2 separate regions of the Homo sapiens genome follow, and region 1 is linked to region 2. The links come from fine-mapping of genetic effects on gene expression. A gene starts in region 2. The other region holds a variant in brackets. All regions are shown on one strand. Distances are between the middles of the regions.

The links. PIP is the estimated chance that this variant, and not a neighbour inherited with it, causes the effect.
Region 1: its variant is the best candidate, but not a certain one, in a credible set for the expression of MMACHC in liver (GTEx, PIP 0.67).

Annotation. Positions count from the first base shown.
Region 1 is chr1:45,529,110-45,534,482 of GRCh38, reverse strand. It overlaps the pseudogene HMGB1P48. Among named protein-coding and RNA genes, the nearest start is that of PRDX1, 9.9 kb to the right of the region's middle. The variant C/G (reference allele first, on the strand shown) is at 1,998.
Region 2 is chr1:45,497,580-45,502,952 of GRCh38, reverse strand. MMACHC (metabolism of cobalamin associated C) reads right to left here and starts at 2,653. Exons shown (of 4, transcript NM_015506.3): 1 at 2,540-2,653. The coding sequence starts at 2,620. CCDC163 (CCDC163 homolog) reads left to right here and starts at 2,880. Exons shown (of 5, transcript NM_001102601.3): 1 at 2,880-3,421; 2 at 3,510-3,608. The coding sequence starts at 3,344. RefSeq lists enhancers at 2,659-2,858, 2,408-2,940.

The DNA of each region.
Region 1 (5,373 bases), 32 kb before region 2:
AGGCAGAGGTTTACAGTGAACCAAGATTGAGCCACTGCACTCCAGCCTGGGTGACAGAGCAAGACTCCGTCTCAAAAAAAAGGCCAGGCGTGGTGGCTCATGCATGTAATCCTAGCACTTTGGGAGGCCAAGAGGTCCCCACCTGAGGTCAGGAATTAGAGACCAGCCTGGCCAACATGGCGAAACCCTGTCTCAACTAAAAATACAAAAATTAGCCAGGCGTGGTGGTGCATGCCTGTGATCCCAGCTACTCGGGAGGCCGAGGCAGGAGAATTGCTTGAACCTGGCAGGCAGAAGTTGCAGTGAGCTGAGATTGCGCCACTGCACTCTGGCCTGGTCAACAGAGCAAGATGCCATCTCAAAAAGAAAAGAAAAGAAAAGTTCAAATAAAGATTAGGTAGGCTGGGAGTAGCAGTTCACACCTGTAATCCCAGCACTTTGGGAGGCCAAGGTGGGAGAATCTCTTGAGCCCAGGATTTCAAGACCAGCCTGGGCAATATAGTGAGACCTCATCTCTTAAAAAAAAAGACAGGTAAAGAGCAACTTAAATACATTTATTTTTTATTTTTTAAATGAATTAAAAAATTTTTTTTTTGGAGACTGGGTCTTACTATGTTGTCCAGGCTGGAAGTAGAGCAGACATTTTGTGACCATAGGGTTATCATAAGAATAAAAGTAGGCCAGACTCACGGCTGTAATCCCAGAACTTTGGGAGGCCGAGGCGGGCAGATCATGAGGTCAGGAGATCGAGACCATCCTGACCAACATGGTGAAACCCCATCTATACTAAATATACAAAAATTAGCTGCTCATGGCAGTGCGTGCCTGTAGTCCCAGCTACTTGGGAGGCTGAGGCCGGAGAATCGCTTGAACCAGGGAGTTGGAGGTTGCAGTGAGCTGAGTTCCTGATACAGTGTGGAGTGATCATACCAGTTTTTAACTTGTATTTTTTTTTTTTCTAATCAAAAAACTATAGTCACAGCACTTTGGGAGGCCAAAGGAGGAGGACTGCTTGAGCCCAGGAATTGAAGACAAGTCTGGGCAACATAAAGAGTCTCTGTCTAAACAACAAAAAAAAATTTTTTTTTTTTTTTTGAGACAGAGTCTCACTCTGTCACCCAGGCTGGAGTGCAGTGGCGCAATCTCAGCTCACTGCAAGATCCGCCTCCCGGGTTCACGCCATTCTCCTGCCTCAGCCTCCCGAGTAGCTGGGACTACAGGCGCCTGCCATCACGCCAAGCTAATTTTTTGTATTTTTAGTAGAGACGGGGTTTCACTGTGTTAGCCAGGATGGTCTCCATCTCCTGACCTCACGATCCACCCACCTCAGCCTCCCAAAGTGCTGGGATTACAGGTGTGAGCCACCGCTCCTGGCCAACAAAAAAAAATGTTTTAGGTCGGGCGTGGTGCCCAGCACTTTGGGAGACCAAGGCAGGCGGACCACCTGAGGTCAGGAGTTCGAGACCAGCCTGGCCAATATGGTGAAACCCCATCTCTACTAAAGATACAAAAAATTAGCCTGGTGTGGTGGCGAGCTCCTGTAATCCCAATTTCTCAGAAGGTTGAGACAGGAGGATTGCTTGAACTCTGGAGGCGGAGGTTGCAGTGAGCAGAGATGGTGACACTGGACTCCAGCCCGGGCAACAAGAGCAAAACTCCATCTCAAAAAAAAAAAATTTTTTTTTCAAATTAGCCAGGCGTGGTGGCACCCATCTATAGTCCCAGCTACTCAGGAGCCTGAGGTAAGAGGATTGCTTGAGCCCAAGAATTCCAGGCTGCAGTGAGCTATGATGGTGCCACTGCACTCCAGCCTGGGCAACAGAGCAAGACTCCGTCTCTAGAAAAACTAAAAGATAATGTGTAAAGACACATTTAGTAGTGTGTTAACTATACAAAAAAGACACTGTATAGTTTAAAAACAAATCCTACACAGCCTTACTTTTCAATTTTTTTCTTTTTTTTTTTTTTTTTGAGATGAAGTCTCGCTCTGTCGCCTA[C/G]GCTGGAGTGCAATGGCGCGATCTCAGCTCACTGCAATCTCTGCCTCCCGGATTCAAGTGATTCTCATGACTCAGCCTCCCGAGTACCTGGGATTGCAGGCACACACCACCATGCCCAGCTAATTTTTGTATTTTTGTAGAGATGGGGTTTCGCCATTTTGGCCAGGCTGGTCTTGAACTCCTGACCTCAGGTGATCTGCCCACTTTGGCCTCCCAAAGTGTTGGGATTACAGACAGGCATGAGCCACCGCGCCCGGCATCAATTTTTTCTTTAAAGGGAGTAATTTGTATACAGAAGGGTTAAATGCTTTTTAGACAGAAAAAAAAATGTGATAGAACCAACTTATTAATCATCTTCATCTTCCTCCTCCTCATCTTCCTCATCTTTCTCCTCTTCCTTCTTTCTCTTTCGTTTTTTCAGCCTTGACGACTCCCTTTTTTGCTATATCAGGCTTTCCTTTAGCTTGATATGCAACAATTTCCATTTCCTATTTTTCCTTTAGCTTCTCAGCCTTCTTTTCATAAGGCTACTTGCCATCCACAGCAGTGTTTTTTTGGTCATTGTTTTTTGAGACAGAGTCTCACTCTATTGCCCAGGCTGGAGTGCAATGGTGCGATCTCTGCTCACTGCAACCTCCGCCTCTCGGGTTCAAGCGATTCTCCTGCCTCAGCCTCCCGAGTAGTTGGGATTACAGGCGTGCACCACCACGAGTGGCCAATTTTTGTATTTTTAGTACAGACAGGGCTTCACCATGTTGGCCAGGATGGTCTCGAACTCCTGACCTCGTGATCTGCCCACCTCGGCCTCCCAAAGTACTGGGATTACAGGCGTGAGACACCATGCCCGACTGCAGCAGTGTTATTCCACATCTCTCCCAATTTCTTTGCAACATCACCAATGAATAGGCCTGGGTGTTCTTTGATTTTTGGGCAATACTCAGAACAGAAAGACAAAAAGGCTACAGGAGGCCTTTTGGATGCACTGGGATCTTTGAACTTCTTTTTATCTCCCCTTTACGGGGGACATAGGTTTTCATTTCTTTTTTATAACGGGCCTTGTCCACCTTTGCCATGTCTTCAAATTTTCCTTTCTCTTTAGCAGATACAGTTTTCTACCTCTCTGAGCACTCTTAGAAAATGCTGGCTGGGCGTGGTGGCTCACGCCTATAATCCTAGCACTTTGGGAGGCTGAGTCGGGTGGATCACCTGAGGTCAGGAGTTCGAGACCAGCCTGGCCAACATGGCAAAAACCCTGTCTCTACTAAAAATACAAAAATTAGCCAGGCATGGTGGCGCACACCTGTAATCCCAGCTACTCAGGAGGCTGAGGCAGGAGAATCACTTGAACCCGGGAGGCAGAGGTTGCAGTGAGCCAAGATCGCGCCACTGCACTTCAGCCTGCGCGATGGGAGCAAGACTCCATCTAAAAAAAAAAAAAAAAAAACTCTGAGAAGCTGACTGAAGCCTCTGGGTGCTTATGTTCCTCCCGACAAGTTTTGCACGAAAAATGCATATGATGACATTTTGCCTCTAGGTTTCTGAGGATCTCCTTTGCTCATGTCTAGTTATTTTTCCTCAGTGAGGCACAGAGTCACCCTGTGCCTGTCAGGCTCTCACTTGCCCTGGTGCTGTCTCTATGGAGCTTAACATACTGTAACAGCTGTCTACTTCTTTTTTTTTTTTTTTTTTTTGAGACAGAGCCTTGCTCTGTAGCCCAGTCTGGAGTGCAGTGGCATGATCGCCTCCCGGGTTTAAGCGATTATCCTGCCTCAGCCTCCAGAGTAGCTGGGATTACAGGTGTCCACCACCACGCCTGGCTATTTTTTTTGTATTTTTAGTAGAGACGAAGTTTCACCATGTTGGCCACGCTGGTTTAGAACTCCTGACCTCAAGTAATCTGCCTGCCTCGGCCTCCCAAAGTGCTAGGATTACAGGCGTGAGCCACTGTGCCCTGCCTTACTTGCTTTTTATCATTTTGTTTTGCTTTTTTTTTGTTGAGGCAGGGTCTTGCTCTGTTGCTCAGGCTGGAGTGCAGTGGTGCATTCATGGCTCACTGTGGCCTAAACCCCCTAGATTCAATCAATTCTCTCATCTCAGCCTCCTGGGTAGCTGGGACTACAGGCATGCGTCATCATGTTTGGCTATTTTTTGTTTGTTTGTTTAATTTTTTGTAGAGATGGGTACCCCTATGTCGCCCAGGCTGGTCTCCAACTCCTGAGCTCAAATGATCCTCTCATCTCGGCCTCCCAAAATGCTGGGATTACAACCATGAGCCACTCCACCTGGCCCTGTCTACTTGCTTTTTTTTTTTTTTTTTTTTTTTTGAGACGGAGCTCGTCTTGTTGCCCAGGCTGGAATGCAAATGGCGCGATCTTGGCTCACTGCAACCTCCACCTCCCAGGTTCAAGCCATTCTCCTGCCTCAGCCTCCCGAGTAGTTGAGATTACAGGCATGTACCATCACGTCCGGCTAATTTTGTATTTTTCGTAGACACGGGGTTTCTCCATGTTGGTCAGGCTGGTCTTGAGCTCCCAACCTCAAGTGATCCACCCGCCTCGACCTCCCAAAGTGCTGGGATTACAGGCGTGAGCCACTGTGCCCGGCCCTGTCTCCTTGTTAAATGGGAAAAATTAATCCCCTATTTGGTTAAGCTTGTTATTTGCAGTTAATCTGTTACTTTCAGTTGCATTCAATTTTAACAAATAGATATCCTTGATAACAGTGTTTCTGAAATTGGTATTTGTAGGCCTCTGTACATTCAAATATAATTTTAAAAATTGAATCCTTGTAAATTGAAGAATTCAACTGTTTTCTTTTAGTGATAATCTAAAAAAATTTAACATAAACATATTCTAAATCATCTGTATGAAAAATAAGCCCGGTAGTGGTGACTCAGCCTGTAATCCCAGTACTTTGAGAGGCCGAGATGGGTGAATCCCTTGAGACCAGGAGTTCGAAACCAGACTGGACAACATGGCGTAACCCTGTCTCTATTAAAAATACAAAAATCAGTCAGGCATGGTGGCACATACCTGTAATTCCAGCTACTTGGGAGGCTGAGGCACAAGAATCACTTGAACCCAGGAGGTGGAGGTTGCAGTGAGCCGAAACCATGCTGCTGCACTCCAGTCTGGGCAGCAGAGCAAGACTCTGTCTCAAAAAAAATAAAATAAATAAAAGAAAAATGAGTGCTGTCTTGTGATTTGGGTTCCCATTATTTTATTTTATTATTTTTTGAGACAGGGTCTCACTCTGCTCACTCTGTCACCCAGGCTGGAGTACAGTGGTGCCATCTCGGCTCACTGCAGCCTCGAGCTCTGGGACTCAAGCAATCCTCCCACCTCAGCCTCTGGACTAGTTAGGACCACAGGCACAC
Region 2 (5,373 bases):
CAGGCAGATCACCTGAGGTCGGGAGTTCAAGACCAGCCTGACCAACATGGAGAAACTGTCTCTACTAAAAAAAATACAAAATTAGCCGGGTATGTTGGCACATGCCTGTAATCCTACCTACTCTGGAGGCTGAGGCAGGAGAATCACTTGAACCCGGGAGGCAGAGGTTGTGGTGAGCTGAGATCGCACCATTGCACTCCAGCCTGGGCAACAAGAGCGAAACTCCATCTCAAAAAAAAAAAAAAAGAAAAGAAAAGGCTTCCTTGGATGCTAAGTCTTGAAGGCTAGAAAGTCAACTGGTCAACTGTCAGGTTGATGTAGGGAGGAGAATCTGGTGTGCATTTATTTATTATTTATATTTCACCAAAAAACACATAAACTCACTGGTGTGTATTTTAAAAAGAGGTCACAGACTGAGTGCGGTGACTCATGCCTGTAATCCCAGTGCTTTGGGTGGCTGGCCGAAGCAGGAGGATCACTTGAGGCCAGGAGTTCAAGACCAGCCAGGGCAACAAAGTGAGACCCTGAGTGTTGGTGCATGCCTGGAGTCAGCTACTTGGGAGACTAAAGTGGGAGGATCACTTGAGCCCAGGAGTTTGAGGCTGCAGTGAGCTATGATTGCACCACTGCACTCCGGCCGGGAGGACAGAGTGAGACTTTGTCTCTAAATAAATAAAGAATAAAATAAACAAGTCACAGCATAAGCAAACACACTGGCAGAAAATTCCTGGGTATATTTGAGAATTGTCTAGTTTGGTGGAAGTGAAGGGTCTGTAGAGGGAATCAGAGGGAGAGAAGGCTGGAGAGATCAATAGGAGTGAGATTTTGATTGGCTTTGAATACCAATTTAAGGAATATGGATTTAATTTGGTGACAGTGAAGAGCCACTGAAGATTTAAGGAGTAAACTAGCATGATCATTTTTAGATCACACTGGCTGCAGTGTGGAGGAGGGACTGGAGGTAAAATTACAGCAAGGAGGTTATTACAGTAATCCAAGTGAGAAATGGTGGCCTGGACCACAGCATAGATGGGTGGAATACAAGGGAATGGATTTGGGAGATTCAGTAGACAGTCTTATAGGTCTTGGTGGCTGATTGGATGTGGGGGTAGGGAGGTGAGAGGTAGGAGCCTAGGGTGACTGGCAGGGCTGCAGTTGGCTTTGTTCAGTACAAAAGCTCCTAATACCCAGGTCTACTCAACTTGCCAGATAGGCATTCTCACTCTCCCACACACCTGCCATCCACTGAAACGGTGTCTCAAAGAGTTAAAGGTCGATCTGCAACAAATAGCTTTTGTTTTCTCAAAAACCCAGTGTCATAATATTAGCTTCCAGCACATCAGGCATCAAGCCCTTTTACTTGGTAACACCACACCACTATCTCCACACCTTTACTCAAGCTTTTTCTGATATTTGGGATGTACATAACCCTCCTTCCTTCCAATCTATCTTTTCATATATAGCTCAATTCCATTTTTTCTGGCAAGACCAGTCTCAAGCTAGACCCAACCTACTTCTCCCTCTATATCCTCTCCCAGGACTGCTGTGAGCCACTCAGCAGAAGGAATGGGAAGTGGGTAGTCTCTTAAGCATCAGGCAAAGGGCTCAAGCTGAGCTGATTTAGCTTTGTAACTTAACTGCTCAGTGCACAGGGCACTGATGTGGGGAAATGTAACCGTGTAAATGGGGGTCGGGGTGCGGTGCTGAGACTGCTGTGCCAGGCAAGTGTACAAAGTTTCATTACCCAGCCCAGCACTGATGACTGGAAATATCATGAATTATCCTTCTGTTGGTAGAGGGAACAAACCAGCCAATTGTTTGCCTGTTCATCACCAGGAATGCCCTTCCTTCCTCAGCTGACCTAAATGATAGCTATGCAAACCTTCTAGGCTTTGCCCTCTCCTAAATCCTTTAGGAAGTTCCAAGGTGACTTTGCCTCACAGGTCCCTTTCTTCTTGTAAATTATATAGGTGACAATCTGAGCCACACACGCTACAGGTCATATGGTGTCTCCCGTTAACGAATCCGGCATTATATGGTGGCAAAAGGTTAAACATGCGACAACTTTTTTTTTTTTTTTTTTTTTTGACACGGAGTTTCGCTCTTTGTTGCTCAGGCTGGACTGCAATGGCGCAATCTCGGCTCACTGCAACCTCCGTCTCATGGGTTCAAGCAATTGTCCTGCCTCAGCCTCCCGAGTAGCTGGGATTACAGGCATGCACCACCACGCCCGGCTAATTTTATATTTTTAGTAGAGATGGGGTTTCACCATGTTGGCCAGGCTGGTCTCGAACTCCTCACCTCAGGTGATCCGCCCGCCTCGGCCTCCCAAAGTGCTGGGATTACAGGCGTGAGCCACCATGCCCGGCCTCGACCACTACCTTTTTAACCCAAGCCCCCACTGAAACTCTGTCCCTGTTGTCACATGGACACTGGGCTGCAGGAACCCAGGAGGATCAGAGGCTCCCGAGGCCTCACGCCAGTTGCAACGAAGCCAATCATATATTTCGCCCTAGAACAGCAGGAGGGATAAACTAACCTGGAAGGGGTAAACCTCGAAGCCAAAAGGACATAGCGTGTCCTCGATCTTCTGCTTCAGCTCTGCGACTTTCGGCTCCATAGCGCACGTTACACGCTGAGCTTGCTGGGGAATGAAGTCTCAAGGACAATTGGGCCGTTACGTTTTGAGTCAGCTTCGACTCCATTTCCCAGGTAGGAAATGGGTCCAGTAGCGGGACCATATTGCCTATGCGCGATGCATCTTGGGATGCGTAGTTCGTTTCCTCCTTGGAGACAGCCACACGAAATCAGGAAGACTCAGTTTCCCGGCAAGCTACACGGTGGGGGTGTGCATGTACGTGTCTCTTCTAGAGAAAGGTAGTTCCACCGCCTCCATCGCCGGTTGTGTTCGCAAGAGGCGACCTCAGTTTCCCAGGTGGCGCTGCGGCAGCCAGTCCAAAGTCGGACTTTCAAAACCAACCCGAAGTTTTGAACCCGGCGGCGGCAGTTGTCACTGGCACAGGTTTGGCGTGGTGGCGCCAGTGTACTACTTCTGGGGAGGTCTCAACCAGGTTCTGGCACCTTCAATCCCCACCTGATATCTGCGTATCATCACGGTATCCCGCTTTTCCCCCAGTTCCCCAAGAGCGTCCTTCCTTTCCCTAGTCACAGGATCGCAGTTTTGGTCTGATAGTGCATCCACCTACCCCAGTGTTGCATCCCCACTTCCCTCTTTCCATCTAACGTGGTGGCCTTTCCTGGGGATACCTTGGGTATCCCCCGCTAGGAGAGCAAGCACAAGACACCAGGGAGCCAGACCCCTGCCGCTCCCCTGCCACAGGATATGAATACGAGCCTCAGCTGGTTTGAGCAGCTGGATGTGCTTCTCAACGCTACTGATGGAAATGTGGTCCGGAATAAGGTGAGGGGTTGGTGGAGGTCCCCAGTTTGCGTGGGGAGGCTAAGGGACTCTCAGAGTTCATTGGCCTGTGCATCTGTTTCTTTTGTAGCAGTGGCTGTATCCTCTTGGGGTCTCCACAGAGCTCATTGGCCTGTGCATCTGTTTCTTCTGTAGCAGTGGCTGTATCTTCTTGGGGTCTCCACCGCAGGTAAGTAATGTCTCTTTCTACTTCCAAGCCCTTTCTCTTTCTGTGCCTTCCTCCAGTGCCCGTATCATCCATTATTCCTTCCAAATTCCAACTCTGTCCTTTCCTGAACTCTGTTTCCCCACACAGACCCTGCACTTAACCCTTCCTTATTTCCTCAGCCGGGGACCTGGCTGGGACCTGGATTTCCTCTCATCACTTGCCTCTGCAGTCAGGAGTCCAAGCTCAACAGCCTTGGGCTTTAGAGACTCCCATAGTTCCACAAAGGCTGAGCTGCCCTGAGTCCTAGAGCCCATCCTCTCTCTGGGGTGAGGTTGCTATTCTCTGATCCTAATTTCAATGTCAGGCTCAGGTGAGGCTTGGAATCCTTGGTGTGTATATGTGATGTTTGTGTAAGATGAGGATACTAGGGGTCGGGAAAAGCTGTTATACAGTAGTTCATGTGCTTTTTTCTGCCTGGGGAGGTGACAGGCACTAAGGCAGGCAGTGCAGGGCCTGCTAGAAGAGCGAGAGCAGCAGAAGTACCAGATCAGTGTCCTGGAAGGTATCTGGCCAGTTATTTTCTTCATATACACAGCTTCATATGTATGCACACAATTTTGCCACACACCTGTTGTGTGTGCACATGTGTCTTGTTTTGCAAGTAGAGTATCTAGGGTCTTGTGAAACTCTTAGAGAGGATGATCCCTAACTTGTCCCACTACAGCATCACTAAGGTTGCTGCAGGGGGCCCCAAAGGGGAGTGCTTTTCTCCTGGAGCAATGCCTGGAGGAGCTGAGAAAGGAACTGCAGGGCCTTCAGAGCCAGGTGTGGGAGCAAACCCAAGCCCAAGCCCAAGCCCAGATGCAAACAGGACCAGGAGAATGCAGTACTACCAATGGCCTTCCTCAGGAGCTGCAGACTGAGTAAGGGATAGTCAAGACCTTGCCTTCTTTTTTTTTTTTTTTTTTTTTGGGTTTGTTTTTCTTTTATTGATCATTCTTGGGTGTTTCTCACAGAGGGGGATTTGGCAGGGTCATAGGACAATAGTGGAGGGAAGGTCAGCAGATAAACAAGTGAACAAAGGTCTCTGGTTTTCCTAGGCAGAGGACCCTGCGGCCTTCGGCAGTGTTTGTGTCCCTGGGTACTTGAGATTAGGGAGTGGTGATGACTCTTAATGAGCATACTGCCTTCAAGCATCTGTTTAACAAAGCACATCTTGCACCGCCCTTAATCCATTTAACTCTGAGTGGACACAGCACATGTTTCAGAGAGCACAGGGTTGGGGGTAAGGTCACAGATCAACAGGATCCCAAGGCAGAAGAATTTTTCTTAGTACAGAACAAAATGAAAAGTCTCCCATGTCTACTTCTTTCTACACAGACACGGCAACCATCCGATTTCTCAATCTTTTCCCCACCTTTCCCCCCTTTCTATTCCACAAAGCCGCCATTGTCATCCTGGCCCGTTCTCAATGAGCTGTTGGGCACACCTCCCAGACGGGGTGGTGGCCGGGCAGAGGGGCTCCTCACTTCCCAGTAGGGGTGGCCGGGCAGAGGCACCCCTCACCTCCCGGATGGGGTGGCTGGCCGGGCGGGGGGCTGACACCCCCACCTCCCTCCCAGACGGGGCGGCTGGCCTGGCGGGGGGCTGACCCCCTCCACCTCCCTCCCGGACGGGGTGGCTGCCGGGCGGAGACGCTCCTCACTTCCCAGACGGGGTGGCGGCCGGGCAGAGGCTGCAGTCTCGGCACTTTGGGAGGCCAAGGCAGGCGGCTGGGAGGTGGAGG